Linked DNA regions of Homo sapiens. The protein of the gene in region 1 interacts with the protein of each later gene in a biochemical or structural test. Each region holds a gene or a part of one and is shown in the gene's direction. Other genes may lie near its edges.

Region 1 (7,219 bases):
TATTATGTCTCCCATTTTCCACATGAGGAAACTGAGGCCACAGAAAGGTGAAGTCACTCACTCAACAGCATCCACCAAGCATCAGCAGCACAATGGCCCAGAGTCCATGCTCTCGAATCCTGTAACAGCTATCACTTAACCAGCCACCCCATGTTCCAGGCACCAGGGTTATGTGTTTTTCTCATGTATGATCTCACAGTATCCTCACAATGGCCCCATGAGGCGGGTATCGTGATAACCCCATTTCAAAGGATGAGAAAACTGAGGCTTGGAGATGTGAAGTCCATTGCCCAAAGTCACCCATCCAGGAAGTCGTGGAGCATGTCTCAGGCAGCCTAAAGGCAGAGCCTGTGTTCTTAAGCACTCTGTTCTTGTCTACAGCTCCCCAACCAAGGGTCTCAAACTCACACACCTACTGGGACCAGGCAGGCAAAACAAGCAAAAGACAGTGCTAGGGATGAGGCAGCAGAGAGTGGCAGGGTTTGGGGCAAACCTGGGCAGCAAAGCCCCATCCAAGAGGGGTGGCCGTCTGCCAATGGAAACATGGGCTCACCTCTTCCGGTGTTCCAGTGGAAGCTGGAAACCTAACTGTGTGGGGAACAACCCCTGTTTAAAACTGGGGTCAGACCAGGCACCGTGGCTCACACCTGTAATCCCAGCACTTTGGGAGGCCAAGGCAGGCAGATCACCTGAGGTCGGGAGTTCAAGACCAGCCTGGCCAACATGGTGAAACCCTAAAAATACAAAAATTAGCTGGGCATGGTGGCGCATGCCTGTAATCCCAGCTACTGGGGAGGCTAAGGCAGGAGAATTGCTTGAGCCCAGGAGGCTGAGGTTGCAGTGAGTGGAGATTGTGCCACTGCACTCCAGTGTGGATGGCAGAGCAAGACTCCGTCTCAAATAAAATAAAATAAAATAAAGTAAAATAAAATTGGGGTCAATTTGGCTGGGTGTGGTGGCTCATGCCTGTAATCCCAGCATTCTGGGAGGCCGAGGTGGGCAGATCACCTCAGCCTCCTTGAGGTCAGGAGTTCGAGACCAGCCTGGCCAACATGGTGACACCCCATCTCTACTACAAATACAAAAATTAGGTGGGCATAGTGGCACACACCTGTAGTCCCAGCTACTTGGGAGGCTGAGGTGGGGGAATCTCTTGAACCCAGGAGTTGGAGGTTGCAGGGAGCCAAGATCGCACTACTGCTCTCCAGCCTGGGCAACAGAGTAAGACCCTGTCTCAAAAAAATAAAGACTAAATAAAATACAATTGGGGTCCATTAAAATACCCCTGGCCACCTGGGTGTGATTCTGGCTCTCCTGGATTTCTCACCTGCCCCTCTTTGCACAGTTGTAGGGAACTACCTGTGAGCTTGTTCTTTTAACGTCAATCTTTCTGTCCAGTCAGAAAGTACCAGAAGGGCAGGGATTTTTGTCTCTTGCCCAACTCCATCGCTCCAACTAGAATATCCCCAGCCCACAGCATGGGACCTGGCCCCTTATTCACTGAATAGATGGATCCTTTTCTTTATCCTGCGGCTTCTCTGCAGTTCAGTCTCCCAGTCTCTGTCTCCCAGTCTTTGTCACGTGTACAAAACCTGGCTCTTCTGTTTCCCTGGCTGTCTCTGGTGTCTCTGCCTCCATGTCTCCATGTTTCTGGAATTTTCCGTGACTATTTTCTCCTCTTGGGGTGTGTGTGTTTTACGCTCTGCCTCTCGAAGTCTCTATTACATTCTGTAAGTCAGGCCGGGCACAGTGGCTCGCGGCTGTAATCCCAGCACTTTGGGAGGCAAGACGGGCAGATCACCTGAGGTCATGAGTTTGAGACCAGCCTGGCCAACATGGTGAAACCCCATCTCTACAAAAATCCAAAAATTGGCCAGGCGTGGTGGCGCGTGCCTGTAATCCCAGCTACTCAGGAGGTTGAGGCAGGAGAAACAACGCTTGAACTCGGGAGGTGGAGGTTGCAGTGAGCCGAGATTGTGCCATTGCACTCCAGCCTGAGTGACAGAGCAAGACTCTGTCTCAAAAAAACAACACAAAGCAAAACAAAACAAAAACAAAAACAAAAAACCACACAAAAATTAGCCGGGCATGATGGCAGGTGCCTGTAGTCCTAGCTACTCGGGAGGCTGAGGCGGGAGAATCACTTGAACCTAGGAGGTGGAGGCTGCAGATGGCACCACTGCACTCAAGCCTGGGCGACAGAGCGAGACTCCATCTCGAAAAAAAAAAAAAAGTCTGTAAGTCGGGCCCACACCATCTCTTGCTCCGTGAGTATCTTTGTCTCTCTAGCTCCTCTTCTTCTCTCAGTACATGTCCCTCCTTGACTCCCGCCTCTCTGCAAGGTGTATTTGGCTGCCTCAGTTGGCCTCTCCCCCTCTGCATCTCTGGGTGGGGTGTTCTCTGCCCGTCTCCCACCCACACCCACCCCCGGTGCTCCCCTTCCCCCCAGCAGGACAGCGGCTCAGGTTCACGCACCCCACGGCGGGCCGGCTGGGCGCACGCACGTCCTTGCACACAAGCCGCACGTAGCTGTACTTGAGCACGTCGATGAGCGTGTAGAGCGGGGGCGCACTGGCCCAGCGGCAGCGCGCCAGGTGCATGGAGCTCTTGACGAAGAAGAGCGCCAGCCGCTGCTGGCACCACGCGTCGAAGAAGCGGCTGAACTCGGCCCACGAGAAGAAGGCCCGCTCCCGCAGCTCCTGCTCCTCCTGCCCCGCAGCCGTGCCGGGTGGGGGCTCCGGCCGCTCCATCCTGGGGGCCTGCGTGGAGGAGGGGAGAACAGGTGGATATCAGACCCATTCCCACCCGGGGTATCTCATCTACTCCATTCTTGGCCTGCCCCGTCGGTTGCTGGTGCCTCTATCGAGGTGGGTAGCCCGGGGTCGGACGTGCCTGTTTTTCTCCAAATATATAAATATCAACCTCCATCCTATCTTTGGCCTCCTCCCACCGCCTTATCCCTGGTTCACTTGGAGCCTGTCATCTTGATTCCTAATTCCAACTCGTCTCCTCCTCCGCAGATGTGACCCTTAGGTACAGTTGGAATCTCTCCTCCCAAAATACGACCCTTAAGCTCAGATGTCCCTTAAGGACATCTCCTCAAATGTGTTCTCAAATTCCAGCTAAAACCTCCTCCCCTTCCAGCTGTGTCTCTCACCCAAGAGTAACTTCTAACTCTCGTATTCATCTGGAACTCCTCCTTCCATGTGCCAACAGTTGGCTGTAACCCCTCCAAAGACGCTCCATCTCCAGATGTGCTCCCACATCCAGGCCACGGACCCCTCACCCGGTCACATGCTTCATGCACCTGTGGCTCCGCACTCCCCAGATGTGCCTCTGGCGTGCAGCTGTTGCCCCTTCCCCCGATTATGACCCTATGGCTCGCCACATGCAGCTGTAGCTGGGGCTTCCCTGAGACACTCTCATCTCCAGATGTACTCCCCACATGCAGTTATCCACGCTTCGCCTACAGGTGTGTGCCCCACTTGTGGCTAGTTCTCCTCGGAAGTGTCACCAGTATTCACCTGTGGTCCCCTCCTCCTCAGATGCGGCCCCCAGTCCAGCTGTGGGCCCCTCCTCCCAGTTACATCCACCATCCCCCGCAATATGCATCTTCGTTCTAGACATGGCCCCTCGTCCTCGGATGGGCTCCTTCACCCCAGATGCTCCCCCCACGTCCAGCTGCGCGTCTCCCCTCGAGCAGCCCCATCCAGCCCGCTCCCGACCCTCCTACTCCCCCCCTCCCCGCCCGCTGCGGCACCTTCCAGCCCCGCCGTCCCACCTAGCTGTGCCTCTCCCCTCCCCAAGATGTGCACCCTTCCCGCCCCTCCCCACTCACCTACCCGCCCCGGAGCGGCGTCCACCTCCCACAATGCCCCGCGCCCAGGCCTGGCCCGGCCCTTGCTCCCGGGATGCCCCGCGCGGTCTCCCGCCTCTCTTCCCGCCGTGCCTCGCGGGGGCGCTTCCACCGATTCCTCCTCTTTCCCTGCCAGTCACTCCTCAGACCCTCAGCCACACCCGCTCATCCAGGGCGAGGGAAAGCGCGGGCATTTTCCCAGTGTGCTCTGCGGGAGGGCTCGCCCCACTTCACCCCTTTTCCCGCCCTCCTCCCATTCGGGAGACTACGACTCCCAGTGTCCTCCGCGCGACGGCGGCGGTGCGGACGGTGCCCAGGTCCCGCCCCTAGGCTCTGCCCCGCCCCCGCCCGCAGACGTCTGCGCGCGAATGCCGTGGCGCGAACTTGGGACTGCAGAGGCGCGCCTGGCGGATCTGAGTGTGTTGCCCGGGCAGCGGCGCGCGGGACCAACGCAAGGCAAGTGGGGCCGTCCGCAAGCAGATGGGAGGCGGAGGGCGGCGGGTGCGCCGAATGCTTGGGGCCTATGCTTCGCCATGTCGGGGTGTCTGCAGAGGAGTGGGCGTGGGGACGCTGAGGCTGCCGAGAGCGCGGTGGAGACGGAAGAGCGCGGGCTGCGGGCCGCCGGAGAGTGCAGAGAGGTGTCTCCCAGAGGGAGGGGGGCCAGGTAGAGGGTAGACGAGAGACAGAGACAGTTGGACAGGTCCTCTGAGAAGAGGCCTTGAGGTGCGAGTTCACCTGGAAAGGGGAGAGGCCAAATGGAACTGAGGGGCGGGGCCGGGGGGGGGAAAACTGTGTGGGCGGGGCCAGCTGGAAATCGGAAGGCCCCCCGAGGGGGCGGGGCTATCTGGGAGGGGGAGGGGCTGAAGGGAGCTAAGGGGCGGGGCCGGGGAAAAGATTGCGTGTGGGCGGGGCCACCTGGAAGGGGGAGGTGCCAAGGGTGGGGCTGGCTGGGAACCGGAAGTGCTGAGGGGGCGGGGGCCACCTGGAAGTGCTGAGGGGGCGGGGCTAGAAGAAGGTAAATCGCGGGCAGCAGCATCACCTGGAAGGAGTGGGCCCTACTGGAGGGAGATGGGTGGTGTCAGGGAGAGGTCAGTGGTAAGGTCCAGGTCTAGGTAAAGGGCTCGTAAAAGATGGAGAATCATCTGAATGGGGAGACGTCTGGCCTAATGTATGCTTGATAAAGGGATGGAGCTTACCTCTTGTTTTTACTTTTTATTTTGAAATAATTATAGATTCAAGGAAGTTGTGAAAAGAGTATATCCATCTTCCCCTAATGGTGACATCTTATGTAGTCCCAATATCGAAACCAGGAAATTGACATCAATACAGTTCTGTTAACTAGATTACAGACCTTGTTCAGTTTTCACCAGTTTGTGTGGTGTGAGTGTGATTGTGCATCTGTGTGCCCGTGCAGCTTGATTCCTTGTATAGATTTGTGTAACCCCCATCGTAATTGTGATATAGAACAGTTCCCTCTCCACATAAGAACTCCTCCCCAGGCCCCTGGCAACCGCTAATGTGTTCACCATCTCTAGTTTTGTCATTCGGAGATTGTTATGTAAATGGAATCATATATTATTAGGATGTTACCTTTTTTCTACTCTGCACAATGCCCTGGAGGTCCACCCAAGTTGTTGCTTGTATCAGTGCTTCGTTTCTTTTTATTACTGAGTACTGTTTCATCCTTACTTGATATTTTTCCTGTCATTATCTCTTCATTTTGGTAACCGCTTTATTGAGATATAATTCACAATTATACAGTTTGCCCATTTAAAGTGTACAATTTTGCCCATTTAAAATGTACAAGTCAGCGGTTTTCAGTGTATTTAAAGTGTATTTCAGTGTATTTAAAGTGCCCATTTAAAGTGTACAAGTCAGTGGTTTTCAGTGTATGCGCTGAGTTGTGCAGTTATTACCATAATCGATTTTAGGATATTTTTATCATCCCCCCAAAAAACTCCTATACCTTTTATCCATCATTCATTTAATTTTAACCCTGAACAATATTCTACCATATGGTATTCCAGTAATGAGGGAACCAGTTCCCTAAGGGTAGACATTCCACCAGTTTCCAGTCTTCTCTCATTACAGTTAGTGCTGCAGCAGGTAACTTTGTGCCTCACTTGGTCCACCTGTGAGGGTCTCTGTGGGCCAAATACACAGAAGTGGGGTTGCCGTTCCGATAGAGACGCCAGGTGGTCCTCCAGAGGCATCAACCAGTTTGTTCCCCCCAACTCAGCAGTACACAGAGTTGAGAAGCCAGCCTTGAGTACCGTGGTAAGGAGAAAGGAACGTGGGCTTTGGAGCCAGCCACACCGGGTTTTGAAGCCTTGCCTGAACCCCAGCTATGTTCCTCTGTCCTCATTACCTTCATCTATAAAGTGGGGATGATCTCACCTGTCTTGGAGGGCTGACTTGAGGATTGAGGGTATTTGAGAATGTGATCAGCCTGTCAGGCATAGAGTAGGCTTCCCAGTAAACGCTTATGTATTTCTCCTTCCCTTGCAACTCAGTCTGGTGGTTAAGAGGTGAGCTGTGGAGCAGGCCGACCTGGGGTGGAACGTACTATAGATGCAGGTTAAGTTCCTTTGAAAACCCCTCTGTGCCTTAGTTTCTGTAACAGAGTTGTTGTGGAGAGTCAGTATAATTGAGAATGTCAAGTACCTAGGCAGTTGAGCACTCAGGAGGGATCGTAATAGTTTTCTCCTTTGCCCTCAGGATTTTGGTGGCTAAGTCCCTAACCTGCTTTCTGTGTGAACTGTTTGGTTGAAGCATTGCTTACTTCCTGCTCCCCAACTGGCCCTGAGAAACTCTGTTTGGAAATTGCTGAGTTTCTTTTTTGTTTGTTTTTTTTTTTTTTTTTTTTTTTTTAAGACGGGGTCTCGCTCTGTCGCCCAGGCTGGAGTCCAGTGGTGCAGTCTCAGCTCACTGCAACCTCTGCCTCCTGGGATCAAGTGATTCTCCTGCCTCAGCCTCCTGAGTAGTTGGGATTACAGGCTGGCACCACCATGCCTGGCTAATTTTTTGCATTTTTAGTAGAGATGGGGTTTCACCATGCGGGCCAGGCTGGTCTTGAACTCCTGACCTCGTGATCCGCCTGTCTCAGCCTTCCAAAGTGCTGGGAGTACAGGCGTGAGCCACAGTGCCGGCCTACTGAGTTTTTTGATTCCAAAATTGAGTTTGAGTTGTGGTGCCAACATGTGGCGGCCAAGGCTGTAGAGAGTAGTGGAGACTTAGAGGCGTGTGGTGCGGGACAGAGAGTACTGATTCCAGAAAACGAAAGGGGACCCCATGGGTTGAAGAAGATTTCTGTGCAAAGGAAGGGAAAGTCAAAGAAAACCATTTCTGTTGCCCAGGCTGGTC
Region 2 (7,024 bases), on another chromosome or scaffold:
CGAGGCTGATGCTGGAATCTGAGGAGCTCCCCTTCTCTCCCCGCTCCCGTGCTCCCTTGGCAGGCGGAAGAAGCTCCGTTTCCACCCTCGGCAGTTGTACCTGTCCGTGAAGCAGGGCGAGCTGCAGAAGGTGATCCTGATGCTGTGTGAGTGCCACCCATTCCTTCAGCAGACCTTGACCAAGCTTCATGTATATACCAGGCACTGGGTACAGGGCCAGGAGTACAGTCGTGAAGGACACAGTCCTTGCCCTGAAGGACTTAGTGTGGTGGGGAAAAGACACATGTAACCCATAACGATGGGGATGTGGTGACTCATAGGTGCTGGGTCCTGTTCTGAGTGCTTATACCTGTTAGCCTTGGCTTGCACAGAGAGGTTAGGGACCTTGCACAGTGCACAGTGGTACTGAGAAGCAAGGCAGGGTTTGAATTCAGGCAGAGCTGATGCCTTTGACTCCTTATTCTGATAAATGCTGTGGTGGAGGCAAGCTCGGAGAATGCCAGGAGGGGCCCTGATCCAGCTTGGGGCCCTGAGAAGCCTTCCTGAAAGAAGTGCCACCTGCCCCCTAGCTTGCTTACCACTTGTCCCTCCCTCTCCCGGTGTGGCGGGCTCTCCCCGCAGTGGACAACCTGGACCCCAACTTCCAGAGCGACCAGCAGAGCAAGCGCACGCCCCTGCATGCAGCCGCCCAGAAGGGCTCCGTGGAGATCTGCCATGTGCTGCTGCAGGTCAGCACGGGCCCGGCCCCATGCCTCATTCACCAGGCCCTTAGGCCCCTCCCCTGCCCCATGCCTCCCTGGTGCCAGCCCTCCTGCCCCCTCACAGGCTGGAGCCAACATAAATGCAGTGGACAAACAGCAGCGGACGCCACTGATGGAGGCCGTGGTGAACAACCACCTGGAGGTAGCCCGTTACATGGTGCAGCGTGGTGGCTGTGTCTATAGCAAGGTGTGCGCGCAGGCAGCAGGGCGTGGCCCCCGGAGTCAGGGACCAGGTTTGGGGTGCCAGCCCAAAGGCTCATTTGCCCGTGTCTCCCTCAGGAGGAGGACGGTTCCACCTGCCTCCACCACGCAGCCAAAATCGGGAACTTGGAGATGGTCAGCCTGCTGCTGAGCACAGGACAGGTGGACGTCAACGCCCAGGTCAGCGGCCCACCCAGCCCAGCCCCTCTGGGTCCCTGGTGCCTGGGTTCCTTGGCTTGGCCTCAGGCTTTGGGCCGCCTTTCCTACATCTGACCTCACACTGCTCGTGTCTGTCCTCATTGCTTTCTTCTTCCTCATTTGTATTTCTCTTCATTCTTTTCTTTCTCGTTTCTTTCTCTTTATCAAGTTTCAGAATAATCAGTTCCTGTCTTAATCTCTGAAAGTGTCCAGTGAGGCTTTTTATTAACTCTTGGGTTGTCATACATTGGATGTGTTTTAGTCATTTATTGGCATTCTTCTCAGTCTTTGAATTATTCCATCATTGTCCAGAAGAAGCCCCTTTAAGAGGCCTCTGTGGCTGTGACATGACCCAGTGGCCCAGTGGCCTTTGAGAGCCTCCTGACCTTTCAGCACATTTCCTGCCCCCAACTCAGAATCCACCATTTCTCTAAGAAACTCTGCTTCCTTTATGGGAAACTTTTTTTTTTTTTTTTGAGACGGAGTCTCACTCTGTTGCCCAGGCTGGAGTGCAATGGCGTGATCACAGCTTACTGCAAGCTCCGCCTCCCAGGTTCACGCCATTCTCCTGCCTCAGCCTCCCGAGTAGCTGGGATTACAGGCGCCCACCACCATGCCCGGCTAATTTTTGTATTTTTAGTAGAGACGGGGTTTCACCATATTGGCCAGGCTGATCTTGAACTCCTGACCTCGTGAGCCACAGCGCCCGGCCAGAAGCATTTTTTAGAGAATACAATCTATGTTCCTAGGAGTGTTTATTGTTATTGGGTTGTCGCTGCTTCTAGGACTTTTGAGTGGGCAGACTTAGGAAATTTTTGTTCGTTTTTTCTTTTAAGAGACAGGGTCTTGCTATGTCACCCAGGCTGAAGTACAGTAGCAGTTCACAGACAGTCATAGCTCTCTGCAGCCTCGAAATCCTGGGCTCAAGCAACCCTCCCATCTCAGTCACATGAGTAGCTGGGACTACAGGCATGCACCTCCATGACCAGCTCCTGGCTGTATTTTTTGGAAAGAGAACAATTACTTTATTTTCTCTCTGGCATCAGATGGTAGACGCTACTAGTCCCATTTTTGTTTGTTTGTTTTTTGAGACGGAGTCTTGCTCTGTCGCCCAGGCTGGAGTGCAGTGGCACGATCTTGGCTCACTGCAAGCTCCGCCTCCCGGGTTCACGCCATTCTGCCTCAGCCTCCCTAGTAGCTGGGACTACAGGCGCCTGCCACCACGCCCAGCTAATTTTTTCTATTTTTTAGTAGAGACAGGGTTTCACCGTGTTGGCCACAATGGCCTCCATCTCCTGACCTCGTGATCCGCCCGCCTCGGCCTCCCAAAGTGCTGGGATTACAGGCATGAGCCACCGCGCCCGACCCTACTAGTCCCATTTTTTAGATGAAGAAACTGCGACCCAGAGACGTTAAGTGACTTACCCAGGGTCCCACAGCTTGTGAATGGTGGAGCTGGGATTCACACACACAGCCAATCTTGACCATTTGCTGCTTTGGTGAGCAGGGCCAGCTGCCCCCACCCTCACTCCCTTCCCACCCACAGGACAGTGGGGGGTGGACGCCCATCATCTGGGCTGCAGAGCACAAGCACATCGAGGTGATCCGCATGCTACTGACGCGGGGCGCCGACGTCACCCTCACTGACAACGTGAGTGAGCGTTTGGTTGAGGTAGGGCAGCCCCAGGCCCCTGAGCAAGGTGGAGGCTGGATTCAAGGGCCCAGCTGCCTGCACCTCATCTGTTCCCCTCCTACCTCCACAGGAGGAGAACATCTGCCTGCACTGGGCCTCCTTCACGGGCAGCGCCGCCATCGCCGAAGTCCTTCTGAATGCGCGCTGTGACCTCCATGCTGTCAACTACCATGGGGACACCCCCCTGCACATCGCAGCTCGGGAGAGCTACCATGACTGCGTGCTGTGAGCCCCTGCCCCGCCCTTGATGCCCCTGCCCCCACTTCTTGCAGCCTCAGACCCTGCATTGGGCATCCTGTCCCCTCTTCAGGTTATTCCTGTCACGTGGGGCCAACCCTGAGCTGCGGAACAAAGAGGGGGACACAGCATGGGACCTGACTCCCGAGCGCTCCGACGTGTGGTTTGCGCTTCAACTCAACCGCAAGCTCCGACTTGGGGTGGGAAATCGGGCCATCCGCACAGAGAAGATCATCTGCCGGTGAGCCCTGGGCCCCTCTCTGCACCCAAGACCACCTCCTCCCCACCCATACCCTCCCCAGGCTCCATTGCATCCTCACAACATTCCCCAACCCCTCCCCATGCACCACTGAATCCCCAGAACCACCCACAGGCCCCCTCCCCACTAGGGTTGCCAGATACAGCAAATAAAAATAGAAGACACCCAGTTAAACTGGAATTTCAGATGCACAGATGCATACTTTTTTAGTGTGAGAATGTCCTGTGTAATTTTTGGGACATACTAAAAAGCTATTTCTTGTTTATCTAAAATTCTATGTTAACTCGCTGTCCTGCATCTTACCTGGCAACCTTACTCCCCTGCCCCCAGCCCCAGGAACCTCCCCAACTCTCTTCCTTATACCTGGAGTAGCTCCTCACCCCCTTTTCCAGCTTCCCAGCCCCTTCTTCCCGTCTTCTGCAGGGACGTGGCTCGGGGCTATGAGAACGTGCCCATTCCCTGTGTCAACGGTGTGGATGGGGAGCCCTGCCCTGAGGATTACAAGTACATCTCAGAGAACTGCGAGACGTCCACCATGAACATCGATCGCAACATCACCCACCTGCAGGTGAGTAGGGGGCCCGGGGCCTCCCCAAAAGGACACCGAGAGCTGCCAAGTACAGTTGGACAAGCTTCAAACCAGCAAAGGCACCTGGCCAAGGAAGGGTTGGCTGAAAGGGAGCCCTGGTGTGGGGTCGCATCCCCACCAGGGGAGGGATCCTTTTCCTAGGTCACAGCAAGGTATCATATGAGCTCCCAGTAGCCCTGGGGACACCACCATACTGATTACCCGTCACCCTAGGACCATCACCACCCACTGTTGTAACACATGGACCCCAAAGAAAGGACAGTGGTTAGGGGGTCAGGGGGCATCAAGAGTAGAGGGGCCCAGACCGATCATGGGGTTGAGCTGACCTCTGCCTCCTCGCCCCAGCACTGCACGTGTGTGGACGACTGCTCTAGCTCCAACTGCCTGTGCGGCCAGCTCAGCATCCGGTGCTGGTATGACAAGGTGCGTGCCCCTTGCCTTGGCCACAGACACCCGGCCCCTCCTTCAGAGGAGCCAGCCTCCAATAAACCAGCTCCCTGGGACCATGTCCCTCACCTCCTACCCTGTGGGGGAAGTGACTGAGAGGACTGGGCAAGGCCTGGGAATCCTGGGATGTGGCTGGGACAGCGATGGGCGTGTGCCCAGGTCTATGCAAACCAGGGATGATGCTCCTGCATTTCGTGCTCTCGGATCTCAGAGCCTGTGTGACCTCCCCAACCCCAACTTCCCTGTCTCTGTAGAGTCTTGGGGTTCCTGGGTGGGCAGCTGAGGTGGGCCCCACAGAGAAACCACTATCCTCCCCTCCGCACCCTAGGATGGGCGATTGCTCCAGGAATTTAACAAGATTGAGCCTCCGCTGATTTTCGAGTGTAACCAGGCGTGCTCATGCTGGAGAAACTGCAAGAACCGGGTCGTACAGAGTGGCATCAAGTGAGGCCCTGCTCCACAGCCCACCCTCTCCCCACCTCACCCTTTCCTCCCTGCCCCTGGGGCTTTTCCAGGGCCTCCACCCAACAGCGCCATCTCTCCTACCCCCAGGGTGCGGCTACAGCTCTACCGAACAGCCAAGATGGGCTGGGGGGTCCGCGCCCTGCAGACCATCCCACAGGGGACCTTCATCTGCGAGTAAGTCACCGGGAGCACCTTAACACCTGGTGGGAAGGGGATACATGGCCACTGCTGACTGCCAGGCCTCCCTCTCAGCCATCTGCCCTGATGAGTCACATGTCTCCATCTGGCCACTCTCCAGCCAGCCTCCTCTGACCCCTATTCCTGCAGCTGAGCAGCCAGCCGCCTCTGACCCCCATCCCCCCAGCTGAGAATGGCACCTGCCTCCACTCTGCCCAGACCACAGAGCTTGTCTTCCCTCCCCTCCACCTCCACCCTCTACCTTCCCCTCCACCCCCTCCTCGCCCTTCCTAGCTGGAGAAAGTGCCAGTTTGGGAGACAAACAGACTTGGGTTTGAGCCCCTCTCTGCTTCTGGATGTTCTTGGCCAAGTTACTTAACCTCTTTGAGCCTTATTTTTCTTGTCTGTAGAGTGGAGGTGATAACAGCTACCTATCTGTCCACCTCCTCAGGGGCCTGTCCCTCTCCATCAGTTCTTTCTCTGCCCAGCATCTGTAATCTCCCCCTTTCTCTTGGCTGCCATCCCACAACCCTCAATCTTACTTTAGTCTCCTTTGGCTCTTTTTTTTTTTTTTTTTTAATTTATTTTTTGAGACGGAGTTTCACTCTTGTTGCCCAAGCTGGAGTGCAATGGCACAATCTTGGCTCACTGCAGTCTCCACCTCCCAGGTTCAAGCGATTCTCCTGCCTCAGCCTCCCAAGTAGCTGGGATTACAGGTGCGCACCACCACACCCGGCTAATTTTTTGTATTTTTAGTAGAAACGGAGTTTCACCATGTTAGCCAGGCTGGTCTCCAACTCCTGACCTCAGATGATCCGCCCACCTCGGCCTCCCAAAGTGCTGGGATTACAGGCGTGAGCCACCGTGCCTGACCATTCTTTGGCCTTTAAAAAAGATAGTCCTCTAACCATACTTGCCTGTTCAACAGACCATCCAGTTTCTTTCCATCATGTCATCTCTCAACTTCTCTGGCAAGCAGCCCCTTCCTGCTGGGCCTCAGTTTCCCCACCATCCACTCACTGCCTGTCCCTGCCAAAATCGGCCTTTGCCCTTCCCACTCTGCTGAAGCTGTCTCTTGACAGTCACTTCCCACCCACGTCCTCTCCGTGTGTCTGAATCTCCCATGTCTGCTCACCCTCCTTAGATAGCTGGCTCCTCTCCTCCCTCTGGTGTCCAGATATGTGTGGGTGCTCTTGCCCCGAATCATGCCTTGAGTTCCTTGCCACTCCTGTACCTCTGGCTCTTCCTGCAGTCCTGGCCCCTCTCCTGTTCCATATCGCCCATTCCTGCCGGGTGGCTCCTGGAACACAAACCTCTCTGTGTCCAAACCCGAACTTCCCCACCCAGGCCAACTGCCCCTACACATTAATCCCCTTAACCACAGAGCTTGTTGTCTGTCTCTGTGCTGACTGAAGGCTTCCTCTGTCAAGGCTGGAATGCTGCCCTTTCACTTGCCCACCACTGCTGCTCCAGGCCTTCCCTTCCCCACACCTGCCAGCCCTGCCCATTCCAGATTCCACAGGCTTGTGAAGAGAGATGGGGCCTGGAGCCACCTCCTAATAGCCCACACTCACCTTCAGAACCATGGATTCCTGTCCCACAGGTATGTCGGGGAGCTGATCTCTGATGCTGAGGCTGATGTGAGAGAGGATGATTCTTACCTCTTCGACTTAGACAACAAGGTGAGCAGGAGACCCTCCTTACCCTGCTGCTCCCCAGGGCTGGCTTTCAGGAGCCTCTGGGAAGTCAGCAAATGGAAACCTGGGGAGGAGGGACTGGGGAGTCAGTGGGTGGGGAGGGCAAGCAGGGTCGGGGGAGATGTGAAGAGTGCCATCCCCCTGCCCCAGGATGGAGAGGTGTACTGCATAGATGCCCGTTACTATGGCAACATCAGCCGCTTCATCAACCACCTGTGTGACCCCAACATCATTCCCGTCCGGGTCTTCATGCTGCACCAAGACCTGCGATTTCCACGCATCGCCTTCTTCAGTTCCCGA
Region 3 (7,024 bases), on another chromosome or scaffold:
TTGCTCTTATTGATAATTTCCTATGATTCATAGGCATCCACCAGTGGAGAGGGCTGCCTCTCAGGGTGGTCAGTGGATTCCCTGTGGCCAAGGAATCTGAGCAGAAGCTGATATATGGGAGAAGAGAGTAGAGGACCGCACAGGGCCTTCACAAAGAGCCCTCTAGGTCCCCTTCTGAATTTGGAGATGCAGGAATTCAGCCTGTCTCTTCACCTTCCCTCTTCCTAGAACAGAGGGTGGCACAGGGGAGAAGGTGGTGTGTCCCAGCACATCCAAACCTTTCCATTGGAAATCCCAACGTCCTCTGATCACATCCTTCTAGGATCGTGGTCCATTTCAGTTTCTTACATTGTTTATCTGGTTTTGGAAGGCTCTGCTCTGACCAACGGGGGATTGAACCTGCACAGTCCAGTGAAGAGGAAGCTGGAAGCGGAGAAGGACTACGTCTTTGACAAAAGGCTCAGATACAGTGTCCGCCAGAATGAAAGCAACTGTCGGTTTCGAGACATCGTTGTGCGGAAGGAAGAAGGGTTCACGCACATCCTGCTGTCCAGTCAGACCTCGGATAACAATGCCCTGACACCTGAGGTAAGGGGTGGCGGCCAGAGGGAAGGGCAAGCTGGGCTGTGGCTCCTTCTCACTCAGAATGGAATATTGGCTTTCTCCTTCCTTCCATCAGGGAGCTGAGGATGGTAACTAGCGTGCATAAAAACTTGACTGCAGCGCGCAATTTGCTCATCATTTTACATACATTATCCCATTTGATCTTTATGACCGTGTAATGATACCCTCTCATCTTATGGATGAAGACCATGGGGAGAGGGACTCACTGAACTGATCGTGGACACAGACTTAGCCAAGGGGCAGACCCAGAATCCAAACATCACATCTTGGGCTTTTCCAGCTAAACTTTGTTGTCATCAGCATGTCATATTTGTTGGCCGCAGATATAATTCACTCAGTTAATGTATCTCACTCAGTTTATAATACATATATATGTTACTACATATTGTATATATAATTGAGACAGATTGATTTCACATACCATAAATGTCACCCTTTTAAAATGTACAATTCAGTGATTTTTAATATATTCACAAGATTGTGCAAGCATCATCACTACTGAATTCCAGAACATCTTCATCACCCCAAGGAGAAACCTCACCCACATGAAATAGTAACTTCATTCTCCTTTCTCCCATGCCCTGGAAACCACTCATCTACTTTCTGTCTCTGTAGATTTGCCTATTCCGGACAGTTTGTATCAATGGAAACGTGCAGTTTGTAGCCTTTTGTGTCTGGCTTTTTTCACTTAGCATGTTTTCATGTTTCATCCATGTTTTAGTGTGTATCCATACTTCATTCCTTTTATGGCTAAATAATATTCCATTGTATGAATAGACTATATTTTATCTATCACCTTTTCTATTTGTTCGACTTTTGGCTTGTTTCTACTTTTGATTTTTATGGATAATATTTCTACAAATGTTATATACAAGTTTTTATGTGAACATATATTTTCAGGTTTCTTGGATATATTTCTAATTTCTAATATGATTTTCTTGAGTCTATTCCAATTCTTAGAATTGCTGGGTCATATTGCTTACCGTATTTTTCGAGGAACTGCAAAAACTGTTTTCCACAGTGGGTCCCCCATTTTACGTTCTGACCAGTAGTATGTGAGGGTTCTAGGTTCTCTGTATCCTCGATAACACTTGTTACGTCTGTCTTTTTTATTATAGCAATACTAGTGCATGTGAGGTGGTATCTCATTGTGGCTTTGGTTTGCATTTCCCTGATGACTAGTCATGTTGAGCATCTTTTCATGAGTGCATTGGTCATTTATCTCTTCTTTCTATTCACATCCTTTGCCTATTTTTAAAATTAGGTCACTTTTCTTTCTATGGTTGACTTTTAGGCATTCTTTATTTACTCTAGATAGTAAGGCCTTATCAGATACTTGACTTGAAAATATGTTCTCCTATTCTGAGAGTTGATGTTTTACTTTTTTGATAGTGCCCTATGACAAACAAATTTTTAAATTTTGATAAAGTCTGTTTTACTGCTTTTTCTACATTACTTTTTAAATATTAATCATGCTTATGTCTTAGATGAATAAAATAGGGAAACAATGAATACTTAATGCAGTGAGATTGACAACATCATTCAAAATACAGGGTACATGGCAGGAGAAGGGAACAGATTCTTGACGGCACAAAGGTGGGAAGATGCTCCACGAAGCAGCCTTTTCCTACAAGATGCCTGGGGTAGGGCAGTAGAGTGGTAAATGGCGATAACAGTGATGACAGCCACTGAACAGGGGCTCTTTGTTCCTTGTATTTGCTGTTTATCTCATGTCATTTCGTCACCTCCCTTCTGATGTAGGATTGTTATGATCCACATTGTATAGATGAGAAAATTTAGGCTTAAACAACCCAACTGGGCTAGGGTCTCACAGCTTAACCAAGTAGGTGCCAGGAGGGCAGGGGTTCTGTTCTTGCTCGCCCTTTTGTCTCTTCTGTTCATCCCAGTGCCAGGCCCACTGAAGACATTTAACTCCGAGACCCCTTTTTCTGTCCTTGCAATATCCTGTATTCTCTTTTTCATAATAGCAATGGGAGGTTAATGAGAAGGGTATGTTTTGGAGGATGAAGTCAAGGGATGGCCACTCACTCACATCGGGATAATAGAATGACCTAGCATTGTCCAGTGTACCCCGTACCATCAGGGAGGCATAGGAAGTGGGGTGGGGAGGGAGGTGCTGTGCTCTTGAATTTGTGATTGCATTATTATTATGGTTGAAATAGACCCTGGTTCTTTTACGGGGTTGTGGGTGCGGCCATCTGGAATGATTGACAAATGGTGAGGGAAGCACTGTGGCTAAAGCTTTGGGGTTGTGGGGTAGTGGTTGTGTGCTGCCCCTTCTCTGAGCATGGTGTTTTGGGGGCCTCTCCATCCTCCGCCTGTAACAGAAGCATCCCTGGGGTTCTCTGCTGTGTAGACCTCTGTGTGGGATTCAAAGAAGCCCAGAGCCTGCAGTCCACCCCGAAAGCAGCTCTTCATATGTTTATACACCTGGAAACCTCATTATTTTAAGCTCATCATGACATCTGCAGAGACCAGTTTTTCCTAGATTCTTTCTACTTCACTACTTTCTAAAAGCGTGCTCTAAAAAGGCACAGCATTTTCTTTCAAGAAATTGAACACATGTGAAGTCTCCAGTTCATTCCCTCTGTGGAGCAGCCCTGGGTGGTAACTGTTGCCCACTCATCATGGAAAACATGTTGTGCTCGTCTGATTTAAGGTGCACAGGTTCTCACCTCCTGAGCTGCGGGCTTGGTTAATTGGGGTTCCTGCCCTAATCAGTGTCAGTTGGTTACAGAACAGGAGGAAAACAGTCAAAGTTATTGATCTGGTATTTTCAGCTGTCTCAACAACTGAAGGGGATTGAGTATGTGGGTGAGCCAGCTGACTGGGTAAAGCAGCCCGTAATGAAGGTCCTACTGAAATGAAGAGGCTGTGTGAGAGGAGGAATACAGGTTTTAGTCTAGCAGACCTGGCTTCCAATCCTCCCTTCAACTTACCATGCTGTTACCTTGGGAAGTTACTTTGCTGCTCTGAGCTTCCTCCTTTATAGAAATTTTACAGTATTTTGCTGGCAAGATTAGAGATAATGTATGCACAGGAGCCCACAAAGTACCTGGCATATAGGAGGTATGTAATAAATGTTCCCATCATTGTTAATGGGAAGCAGAGGCCATTTAATGTCCACCAGCAGACATTGCCTTGCTTGTGAATGGAGGAACCAGAAGGCGACCACTTTCATGGTTATAATTAAGTTGCTTTTTCTAGTTGTATGTGTAACATTGGTTGGATTGGCCTCATGGGCAGAAATTCATACATTACTGTGTGCATTAAGTAGATTCTGAAGCTAGTGGGTTTGCTGTAATATTTCTCCTGTCTGGGATACAGCAGAGAACCAGGAGATGAACAGAAATGCCCCTTAAGGAAAGAGTCAGTGAAACAGATGACACAGTCTCCTTGATTGAAAGCTTATCCACTTCCCCATTGGGAGAAGACTCCAGGTCTTCCTTCAGTGCCCTTGGCCTCAGCCCACAATCCTACCACTACTCTCAGGAACACAGCAGACATGCAGGAGTCCCTTTTCACACCGCTCTTGTCGTGGCCCCATGTGCAAACCTGTCTCAAGGCCGGTTCACCTTTATTCTTGAATAGCTCTTTCATATGTTTACTTCTATTTCCACCATAACCATTACAGTCCACTACTAGGCTATTTTGTCTGGACTGCTGTAATTAGCCGTCTCATAAGTCTGCCTCCTTTCATGCTTCCTGCCCTGTAATCCATTCTGCATAAGGCAGGCAGAATGATCTTCCAGAAATGCAGCTGTGGCCAAGTCAACCCTTTATACACACACCCCTCCCCAACCAAATGTGTCGATGGCTCCTGATTACCCTGGCTGACAGTCAGAACCCTCAGCGTGGTGCAGTCCCGCCTCATCGTGCAGCCCACCTCACATACCTGTCCTCCTGTACCTCAGTCACCTGGTTTGCTTTCATGCTTACACCTGCCCCGGGGCCTTTATATGTGCTCTGACTGGAACGGGCCTTTCTTCCTCCTTGCTTCACTCACTCTTGCTCTTCCTTCAGGTCTCAGTTCACCCATCACTTGCACAAGTCTTATCACAGTTGTTAGTCTACATGTATTTGTGGGGTGACTTGTTAAATGTCTGATATCCCCCCCCTCCTCCATTAGACTGTAAACTTCTTGGGGATAAAGACTGGCATTCTCTTAATTCAGTAAACATTTGTTAAATTCTTTTATGTGAAAGGGTCTGGACTAGGTGCTGCAAGGGATATAAAGATGGTAAGTATGCTATTTTAGCTCTTGTGGGATTGTATTAGTTATCTATAACTGTAGCAGATTGTTTTAAACTTAGCATTTTAAAACAGCACACGTTTATTGTCTCATAATTGCTGTGGGTCAGGAATCTGGGCATGGCTCAGCCAGATGCTTCCAGCTCAAGGTCTCTTACAAGGCTGCTGTCAAGTGGAGGCTGGGGCTGCAGTCTCACACGAAGGCTCAACTGGAGGAGAATTCACTTCCAAGCTCACCCACGTGGTTGTTGGATGCATCTGTTTCCTGCCATGTGGGCCTCTTCTGAGGGCTACTCATGACAAAGCAGCTTTATTCCCTCAGAGCAAGAACTCCAAGAAAGAGCAAGAGAGGATGATCCTTTTGTCACCTATTCTCCTCCTGAAGATGACCTGCCATCATTTTGGCATCTTCTGTTGAAGCCAGTTGCTAGGTCCAGTCTTCTCTTGAGGGTGGGATTTACAGAAGAGTGTGAATACAAGGGGTTTAAATCACACAGAAGGCAAGATGCAGTAAGGAGGTGCACATTCTACAAGGGAGTTTGTCAGAAGAATCACAACAAGGATTTAAAGTATTCAGGGTTTTGGGAGAAGGGAGAGTATGCATCTAGTCTAGGGTACGGGGAAATCTCCCTTGAAGGTGGTTGCATTTGAGATAGGCCTGGTGTGACTGGATTTCAGCAGGTACAGATGAAGTATAAAGAGAAGGACCCTGATTGATTCCTCTTTTACATCACATTCTAATTAATTTGGTTATCTGGGTGTAAACCCACGCCGGATCCAAAGCTAGAGGTCATAGAGGGGGAGTCTGTTCTCTCCAGCAGACAACTAATAGCAGGTGCAAGTGACAGCTAGGAAGTGCATAATGAGGGCAATGAATGTACAGGACATATTTAGGACTTCAAAATGCATAGCAGTCTGGGACTATTTGTTATAGAATCACATCCCAGAAGCCTCTAAGAAGAATTTTCTGTTATAGGCCAGCAGGTGACCATTGAGAGGTAGTTATATGCATACAGTATATTCTGTTTAAGAAGGAAACAGAATGTGGACTAATTTCGGAACATTTTACTTTAAATGAACCAGTTACATTATTAAATTTGGGGTCTTTCAAGAAGGTAGAATCTTAGCCATCTGTCCAAATTGAATTAGCAACACCAAAAGGAAAGAAAAGAGATATAAACTAGATATAACTTTTTTAAAAATGAAAAACAGTATAGTTTGTACTTTTGTATCAATAAAATGCAAATTTATTTTCAGTTTAATTCATAAATGAGATGGCTGTTTTGTTTGGTCTTTTATTTATTTTTTCTTAACGAATTGAGAAGTAGGTAAGTATGGCCTTAGCCAGAGAAGCTACTCTCTGAGTCATCTATAGAATTTCAGTTCACCTCTTTACAGCAGGGTTTCTTTTTTTTTTTATTTGCCTCTCAGAGAAATAGAGTTCATGTATAGGTGAGAGTATATCTATTTCTGGAGGCAGATGGATTAAAGGACCCACAAGATAGTGGCCTGTGAGCTTTTTTGATGTTCAAAATGAATATCTGTTGCTTATACCCAGATAGGCTGGAATGTGCTTATTCCATCCTTCCAGCAGGGCACAGGGCTGGAGATTCTCAATTCAGATTGACATCCAGCCCTGTTTTTTCCACCAAAATCCTATCCATTAAAAAAAATCATCCAACAGTATAAAGTAGGAGAAAGTAAAGGATGGTTAGCATGAGATTTAAATCATGGTCGTGCCTCTTACTGTTGGTGTGACCTTGGACATCTTACTGCACCTGTCTGAGTCTTCATGGTGTCACTTGCAAGGTTGAGATACCATCTCCTACCTTACCAGATTTTTGTTTGGAATAAAATTCCTGGTGCAATTCCTGGCACTACTAGGTGCTTAAGAAATGGAAGTTCTTTTAAAACTTTAACCTTAAAAAACAGTATTTTCCCAGTATCCCCCTAACTTCCATACACCGTGATGATGCCTGTGGAGTCTTTAATAGTGATCCTTTGGAAGTTTGCTCACTTATCATCTCTTCTGTTAGCCTCTAAGCTTCACCCAGGCACACGCCATGCCTTGTTTTCTATCACTATGTACTTTCTGCTCTTGTTTTAACAATCCAGTGATTGGGTGTTC
Region 4 (7,024 bases), on another chromosome or scaffold:
GTGAGCCACCATGCCCGGCCCAAAATTTTAATTTAATCAAATTTGCACGTCCTTTTTTCAAATCTTTCAAAAGCATTATCCTATCCTATGACTATACCCCTGCTTGGAAATGAATATAATTTTTAAAAATACATGAAAGAAAAGTGCCTCCAAGTGTTAATATGTTGAGTGTAGGTTGATATAATTCTGGATGACCTTTTCCCTATTTTTATTCTTTACTGTGATTATGCTACTTTTATAATTATGTTATTTTTACAATGAAACAAACAAAACATGAAACGAAGTGCCTTCCAGAGTTGAGATGGGCGCTAGGTTCCCATCCGGTGACCTGTGGCACCCTTTCCACCTGGCCCTGCTGCGGACGGCCACGCATGCTCCAGAGCCTCTCCCCGGGCACATGGGCTGCAGCTGCTGTGGCCCAGCCCCAGCACTGTGAGCCAGCAGGAAGCCTGCACTGAGCTCTGGCTTGTGTCTGTTCAGGAGGAGAACATTTGCCTGCACTGGGCGGCGTTCTCCGGCTGCGTGGACATAGCCGAGATCCTGCTGGCTGCCAAGTGCGACCTCCACGCCGTGAACATCCACGGAGACTCGCCACTGCACATTGCCGCCCGGGAGAACCGCTACGACTGTGTCGTGTGAGTGCAGTGCTTCCCCCAGCGCGGGCTGGCGCTGACCTGACCTGGGCGCCCAGAGAGACCGCTTGACAGTCTTGTGTTCACACTTGGGGCGTGAGTGGACACAGGCCCTCTGTTCCTTCGTGTGGAAGTCCATCCTTGGTGTTCCACACGCAGAGAAGTGTCTTTCCCAGTCCACGTTTGAGATCAGCTGTGGTTTATTTCTGGGTTAGGGAGGATTGTCATGAAAAAATTCCCAAGTTGGAGTCTCAGACCTGATACTCCTCACATGGCTGAGGGGCAGCATGGGAACAGCCCTGCTCCCAGCAGGGACCTGCCAGCTCAGAGTCCCCGAGAGGCTCAGGGTGCCTTCTGGGAGCAGTGCCACCCACAGCCAGGGCTGGAGTTGCTGGGGGCTGTGGCACTCGCCACTCAGGGCCCTTTTAAAACTTGAGACCTTCAGCTGGGTGGTGGTGGCTCACGCCTGTAATCCCAGCACTTTGGGAGGCTGAGGCAGGCAGATCACCTGAGGTCAGGAGTTTGAGACTAGCCTGGCCAACATGGTGAAACCCCATCTCTACTAAAATACAAAAATTAGCCGGCCATGGTGGCATGTGCCTGTAACCCCAGCTACTCCAGAGGCTGAGGCAGGCGAATCGCTTGAACCCAGGAGGCAAGAGATTGCAGTGAGTGGAGATTGCGACGCTACACTCCAACCTGGGCGACAGAGTGAGATTCTGTCTCAAAAAAAACCCAAAAAACAAAAAAAGCTTGAGACCTTGATCCCATAAAGTCATCCACACTCAGGTTGTTGTTGGTGGCCTGGGATGGAGTGTGTGTTTGGCTGCTGGGGAAGGACAGGGAACTGTGGGTGCTCCAGGCACCAGCCTCCAGTGACTCCCTGGCCCCTACACATGGGGCTGTGCCCTCCCACATGTGGATCTCACGGTGGCTCAGCCAGGTTGGTCATCTGGTTGTGTGAAGCCCAGCTCCACGTACGATGACTGCAGTCTGGATGCAGTGAGCAGGAGTGGAACTGAGGACTGCTCACGCTGTGCGTGGCCCAAGCTTGGCCTCTCTCCCTCCTTGCTTCCCTTCTTATCCTTGAGGGTAAATTTGAATGAAAAATCCAAGAAAAATCAAATGCCGCCCTGGATTTTACACTCTTCCTGCTAAGAAAACAGCCTGCTGACTTTGACAGTGAATGTGGGAGAGGAGGAAGGGAATCATGTTCCTGGGTGAGCTAAAGCCCGTCTTTGCAGAGTCATTGCTGAGCAGACTTGTTCAAGTTATCTCACAGTGAATAGTGTTCCCTTTATTGTTAGTGATGACGGACATTTTATAAATCTCATCTGTATCACATTTTCAAGTCAGCTTTAAATGTTTTGTGGCCTTACATTTTCCCTTTTAGCCTCTTTCTTTCTCGGGATTCAGATGTCACCTTAAAGAACAAGGAAGGAGAGACGCCCCTGCAGTGTGCGAGCCTCAACTCTCAGGTGTGGAGCGCTCTGCAGATGAGCAAGGCTCTGCAGGACTCGGCCCCCGACAGGCCCAGCCCCGTGGAGAGGATAGTGAGCAGGTGAGCCCAGCCCCAGGACGGCTTTGTGGCAAATCAGCGGTCAGCAGGGCTTTGGGAACTTGCGGTGAAAGCTGCTCCTGAAGCCGAAACATCCCCAGGCTGCAGTCCAAATTGTCAGGGCCAGGTGTTTGCCAGCCGCCCCACTGCACGCTGTGCCACCCCCTGGGCAGAGCACGTCAGCCACCAGGTGACACCTGTCCTTTCCATGGCAGGGACATCGCTCGAGGCTACGAGCGCATCCCCATCCCCTGTGTCAACGCCGTGGACAGCGAGCCATGCCCCAGCAACTACAAGTACGTCTCTCAGAACTGCGTGACGTCCCCCATGAACATCGACAGAAATATCACTCATCTGCAGGTGAGTGACGGCAGATGAAGGGCTGACTCAGGCCAGGACATGGGACAGGCAGAAGCTTCTTGAGCCTGGGGTCCTGGGTTCTCACCACTCAGAGCAGGAGGGCTTATGGGGGGCTTCCCAGGAAGACCTCATTCTCTTTGTAGTTGCCTCCCGTGAAAGAGCTGGAAGGCAGATAAAGGTTCTGTCAGGCCCAGCCCTGGGCCCTCTCATTGCTCTTCCAAGGCTTCTTACCGACCCAAAGCAGTGGCAGGCATCTTTGTGCCTTTTTTGTAACCTCACACTCAGGGGCCCCGGTGTGGCTTCGTGCTGGGGGCACAGGCGAGAGGAGCCCTTGCGAGGCCTGCAGGACGACCTGGATCCCTGCACCTCCCAGCCCCCGGAGAGATGGGTCCAGCACATGCCAGCTTTCCCAGCCTCCGAGTGCATGCAGCCTGGTGCCCTCACTGCTTGCGCCTTCTCGAGCACTTTCCTTGTGGCTCTGCTTGTGGGCAGCTCCCTCCTCTTCCCAGGCCGGGCACTGCCCAGGCCCCCCCCCCCCCCCGCCCCCCGCCCCACAAGGTGTGTCAGGCTCTGTGTTCTTGCCTTTCCCATCGAGCATCTGGCCACAAATGCAGCCGCCGCCCAGCCCTTCACCCACCCCACGTCACCCACTGCCGCGTCGCTGCCCTGCCTGCCCCCTGTCCCTCTGTCAGGGTCCTCAGCCAGAGCTCCCTCCCACAGGCACTCGACATGTTTCTGCCTGCACAGCCTTCTCCCTAAGAGGCCACACACTCACGTGGTGCCTTTGAGAAGCACTTACCAGAATCAGGGTTAACAGAACTGGAAGACGTAGTTGTGACTGGGAGGGGAAATGGAAGGCCTGTGCCTGCACGTCTGACCCCCCGGCGCCTCTCTTCTCAGTACTGCGTGTGCATCGACGACTGCTCCTCCAGCAACTGCATGTGCGGCCAGCTCAGCATGCGCTGCTGGTACGACAAGGTGAGGGCGGCCTCGTGTGCGTGGGCTCAGGTGGTAAGTGCCGCTGGTCCGGGTCTGCAAAAACAGTGCAGGCGTCTGTGACCCCAGCGCTGTCGTGGCAGCGTCGGGAAGGAGTTGGAGGTGAGCTGGGTGTGACAGGCAGGGGAGGCACAGCGGGCACCAGCACCCGAGTCAGGGTCGTGAGCCGAGGACATGGCTGCGGATTCCCTGGGGCTGGGGTCTGCATCCTTTGTGGCTGCCTGGATGGTGGCGGGGGTGGGCAGCGTCAGCCTGGCTTGGCCCCAGGAGGAGGTGCTGCTTATGTTGTGTGTATCTGGTAAGCTGTGCCTTGTGCTTGCTGAGTGTGAGGGGTGTGAAGAGGGAGGGTGCTGCCGGGCTGGGTACAGGGAGCATCAGTGTGGGCGCTGGGCTTGAGGAGACACAGGATTGGAAGTTTCTGTTGGGTGCTGGTCCTCGGAGGAGCCCAGGTTGGAGGCTGCTGAGGAGGAGACGGGAGTGGGGAGTAGCCCTGGCTAGCAGGGGTGCAATTCAGGGGAGGGATGTCTAAGCAGAGGCGGAGAGTTCCTGGTCTCCCGAGTTCAGAGGTCACGGTGGGGGCGGAAGCCAGCATGGCCTGGGTAAAGAGACGCGAGCAGGGAGAGGCAACAGGCGTCCCCTCTGGAAGCAGACTTTGGAGGAGAGTGGACATGGAGGGTCAAGTGTTTACCCATCTGAATTAGAGGCTCCAATGGGAAAAGGATTCGTGCCAGTGAGGGCTATGGAGATGGTACGCTCAGAAAGCCACCAAGCTCATGTCCGAGTGGTGTCTTTTCAGGTGGACAGTGTTGCTGAGGGGGCGCAGGAAGGAATGTTCTGAGGAGCGCCCTAATTGTTCAGAGCAGCCCCTGAAGCCGTCAAGCCAGAGTGTGCCTGGGCAGCCCTGGGCCCCGCGCCTCAGCTCACACAGCCCTGGGGGAGCATCTGCACCCAGTGCTGCTGTACCTGGCCTGGCTTCAGGGGGGTAGAAAGGGGAGCAGAGGGCTGGGTCCCTCCACAGTTGAGGATTTGCAAGGCAAGGAGGCCAGGAGTGCAGGAGGGTGCAGGAGGCCCCAACCAGCTGAAGAAAGCAGAGCAACCCAGGAGCTGGCAGCCTCGGTGAGGCTGGAGAAGCCCAGGCTGGGGGCTGGGAAGGCCCTGGGTGGACAGAAGCTGGCCCCAGGCTGGGCCTAGGGGAGCGCTCCAGGGGGTCTCCACAACCTGTGTGGGCATCTGGGTGGAGGCTTCTCATCCAAACCGTACACATGGAGTTTTTCCCTAGGTGGGTGTTCAAGTTTGGCCAGAAACCATCGTTTTTATGTCCGTTTAAGCCACACTGGGCACTTAGTAGAAATGGGTTGATGTCAGTTCAATTAAAGAGTGAGTAACCTCTGCTGGGCCCTTGCTGCTCATCTGTCCACAGGATGGCCGGCTCCTGCCAGAGTTCAACATGGCGGAGCCTCCCTTGATCTTCGAATGCAACCACGCGTGCTCCTGCTGGAGGAACTGCCGAAATCGCGTCGTACAGAATGGTCTCAGGTGAGAGGCAGCTTCCTGCCGGAGCCCCACATTCTGCTCGTATTAGCACGTATTAGCACGGAGGTCACCCCGACAGACAAGAACTTAACGTGTTTGGATGCACGCACATGTGTGTTTGCAGATAGAGCCGACAAGTTACCTGAGCCCTTTATCCTCTAGAAATGTCACTTGTGCCATAAATCACGAGTCATGCTTCCCCCAGCACAGACTTCGGCATGAGAGAAGGAGCAGGTTGTTGGGTCAGTCCAGCTAAAAGCAGAGGAACGGACTTGGCCTAAGAATTACCTTTGTTACCGAGTTCATGCGAACATTCTTCAACAGGTTAGGGCTGTCGTAGTTCTATTTTAATACTCCAGTCATTTTCTAAATATTCTCTGTTCTCTGGGCTTCCCTAACAGTGAGGTGATGTCCCAACGCTTCTCAGGCTGCGTGGACTCCTTGTTCCTGGGTTGCTCAGGACGCTCATGGAGTAAGGCTTGCCCAGCGCCCTTCCCCAGCTGGGCTTGGTCCCCTGACCGCCCAGCAGCTGCGTCTCCTTTCCCTGGATTCTGGTCTTGAGCATTTCCTCCGCAAATGTGCCCGAGATTGGAGAAGTCAAAGCTCCTCTGAGTCATAAGGGAAAGTTATGCACACTTAAATTTAGCTGAACACTCATTTTTATAGTATTGACTTTTTTGTGACCTCGATAAACTTGGTTCATGGTGAAAGGCAGTCTCTGTCCTTGGTATGGTAGAAAGGCCTGGTGGTGAGGACCCACGCCAGACAGACGCGAGGCAGACACGGGACACATGCCAGATGGGCAGACGCGAGGCACGTGGTTCTGAGGGCTCCTCAGAGGCCCACATGCCAGGACCGCCCAGCCGCCCTCCTCCAGATCTACCCGGCCACCCTCCCCCAGGCCTGCCCAACCACCTTCCCCCAGCCCTGAGAAACCCTCGACCGCCACCTCCCCTGCCACCCTCCCCCAGCCCTGAGGGGCCTGTGGGCTCCTTGTCGGGAGCAGGCTGGGCTGCAGGTGTCACCACAGCCTGGTCCAGCTATAGGCTTCTCTAGTATTAGCACCTCTGCCCCTCACAGTGCCTAGTGGCCCAGGCCCAGCTCTGTCCCCATGTTACAGATGGGGACACCGAGCCACGGCCAGGACCAGTGACTTGCCGAGGTTGTGGGCTGGGGTGCTCCTGGCTGATCCCCGGGTTCTTGGCTCCCTGAGAGTGCGAGATGCCGTGTCTGTGAGGTGCCTGCAGCATCGAACGCTTCGGATACAGAACCAGTTTTCTTCCTCATTTCAGTGACGTGGCACCAGCTGGCTTTTGCTGACCATTGTGGCAACAGGCTGAGGCTGTGGCCTGGGTTCACCACTACTCTCTATTTTTCAGGGCAAGGCTGCAGCTCTACCGGACGCGGGACATGGGCTGGGGCGTGCGGTCCCTGCAGGACATCCCACCAGGCACCTTTGTCTGCGAGTGAGTGAGTCCCTGGGTCACCCCAAGCCTGGTGTCATTTCTGGGACGGAGGCCCATCTGTGTCTGTACTTCAGGAAGCCCCTCTGGGAGCAGGCACATCCCTGGCGTACAGCAGCGTGGGGTGGGGGCCACAGAGACCCTGGCCCCGAGAACCAAGCTCGTGCTGTCCTCAGTCCTCTTGCTGCTGCCCGTAACCAGCCCAGGAGTGCATTTAAGAAGGCGTGGTCCAGTTAGGAAGGCGTGGTCCAGTTAGGAAGGCGTGGTCCAGCATGGGCAGTCATCTCTAGGGGAGGACCATTCTGGGTTCTCAGGTACCAGACCGCAGACGCAGAGCTTTCGGTATCGTTATCATCATCCTCCGGACCCTCAGCTGAAACCCCAGTTCAACCCTGGGCACACCTCTCTAAACATGTTCCCTGCATGTTCTTCTGGTGTGCCCTGCTCTTTCCCTGTGGCTGCGGAGTCTGGGCTGTGCTTGT

What was found.
Region 2: of the proteins of LIG1 (region 1) and EHMT2, one has a biochemical effect on the other in vitro, tested with the Homo sapiens proteins (3 studies listed by BioGRID).
Region 3: the proteins of LIG1 (region 1) and CDYL2 interact in a test that uses a peptide from one of them, tested with the Homo sapiens proteins (one study listed by BioGRID).
Region 4: of the proteins of LIG1 (region 1) and EHMT1, one has a biochemical effect on the other in vitro, tested with the Homo sapiens proteins (one study listed by BioGRID).

What each region holds. Positions count from the first base shown.
Region 1 is NC_000019.10:48,167,334-48,174,552, reverse strand, and holds the start of LIG1 (DNA ligase 1), read left to right. Parts: upstream 1-4,208; 5' UTR 4,209-4,312; intron 4,313-7,219. Other genes in the region: uncharacterized protein ZSWIM9, read right to left, coding at 2,476-2,759, 3,525-3,596.
Region 2 is NC_000006.12:31,880,699-31,887,722, reverse strand, and holds part of EHMT2 (histone-lysine N-methyltransferase EHMT2), read left to right. Parts: intron 1-63; coding exon 64-146; intron 147-621; coding exon 622-728; intron 729-825; coding exon 826-948; intron 949-1,040; coding exon 1,041-1,142; intron 1,143-2,667; coding exon of another isoform or gene 2,668-2,706; coding exon 2,707-2,811; coding exon of another isoform or gene 2,812-2,832; intron 2,833-2,923; coding exon 2,924-3,078; intron 3,079-3,163; coding exon 3,164-3,331; intron 3,332-3,518; exon of another isoform or gene 3,519-3,772; coding exon 3,773-3,917; exon of another isoform or gene 3,918-4,283; coding exon 4,284-4,361; exon of another isoform or gene 4,362-4,713; coding exon 4,714-4,829; exon of another isoform or gene 4,830-4,937; coding exon 4,938-5,024; exon of another isoform or gene 5,025-5,050; intron 5,051-6,162; exon of another isoform or gene 6,163-6,327; intron 6,328-6,601; exon of another isoform or gene 6,602-6,630; coding exon 6,631-6,709; intron 6,710-6,874; coding exon 6,875-7,024. UniProt on the Homo sapiens protein: Histone methyltransferase that specifically mono- and dimethylates 'Lys-9' of histone H3 (H3K9me1 and H3K9me2, respectively) in euchromatin.
Region 3 is NC_000016.10:80,626,583-80,633,606, reverse strand, and holds part of CDYL2 (chromodomain Y-like protein 2), read left to right. Parts: intron 1-370; coding exon 371-588; intron 589-7,024.
Region 4 is NC_000009.12:137,810,981-137,818,004, forward strand, and holds part of EHMT1 (histone-lysine N-methyltransferase EHMT1), read left to right. Parts: intron 1-480; coding exon 481-635; intron 636-2,025; coding exon 2,026-2,193; intron 2,194-2,405; coding exon 2,406-2,550; intron 2,551-3,450; coding exon 3,451-3,528; intron 3,529-4,966; coding exon 4,967-5,082; intron 5,083-6,458; coding exon 6,459-6,545; intron 6,546-7,024. UniProt on the Homo sapiens protein: Histone methyltransferase that specifically mono- and dimethylates 'Lys-9' of histone H3 (H3K9me1 and H3K9me2, respectively) in euchromatin.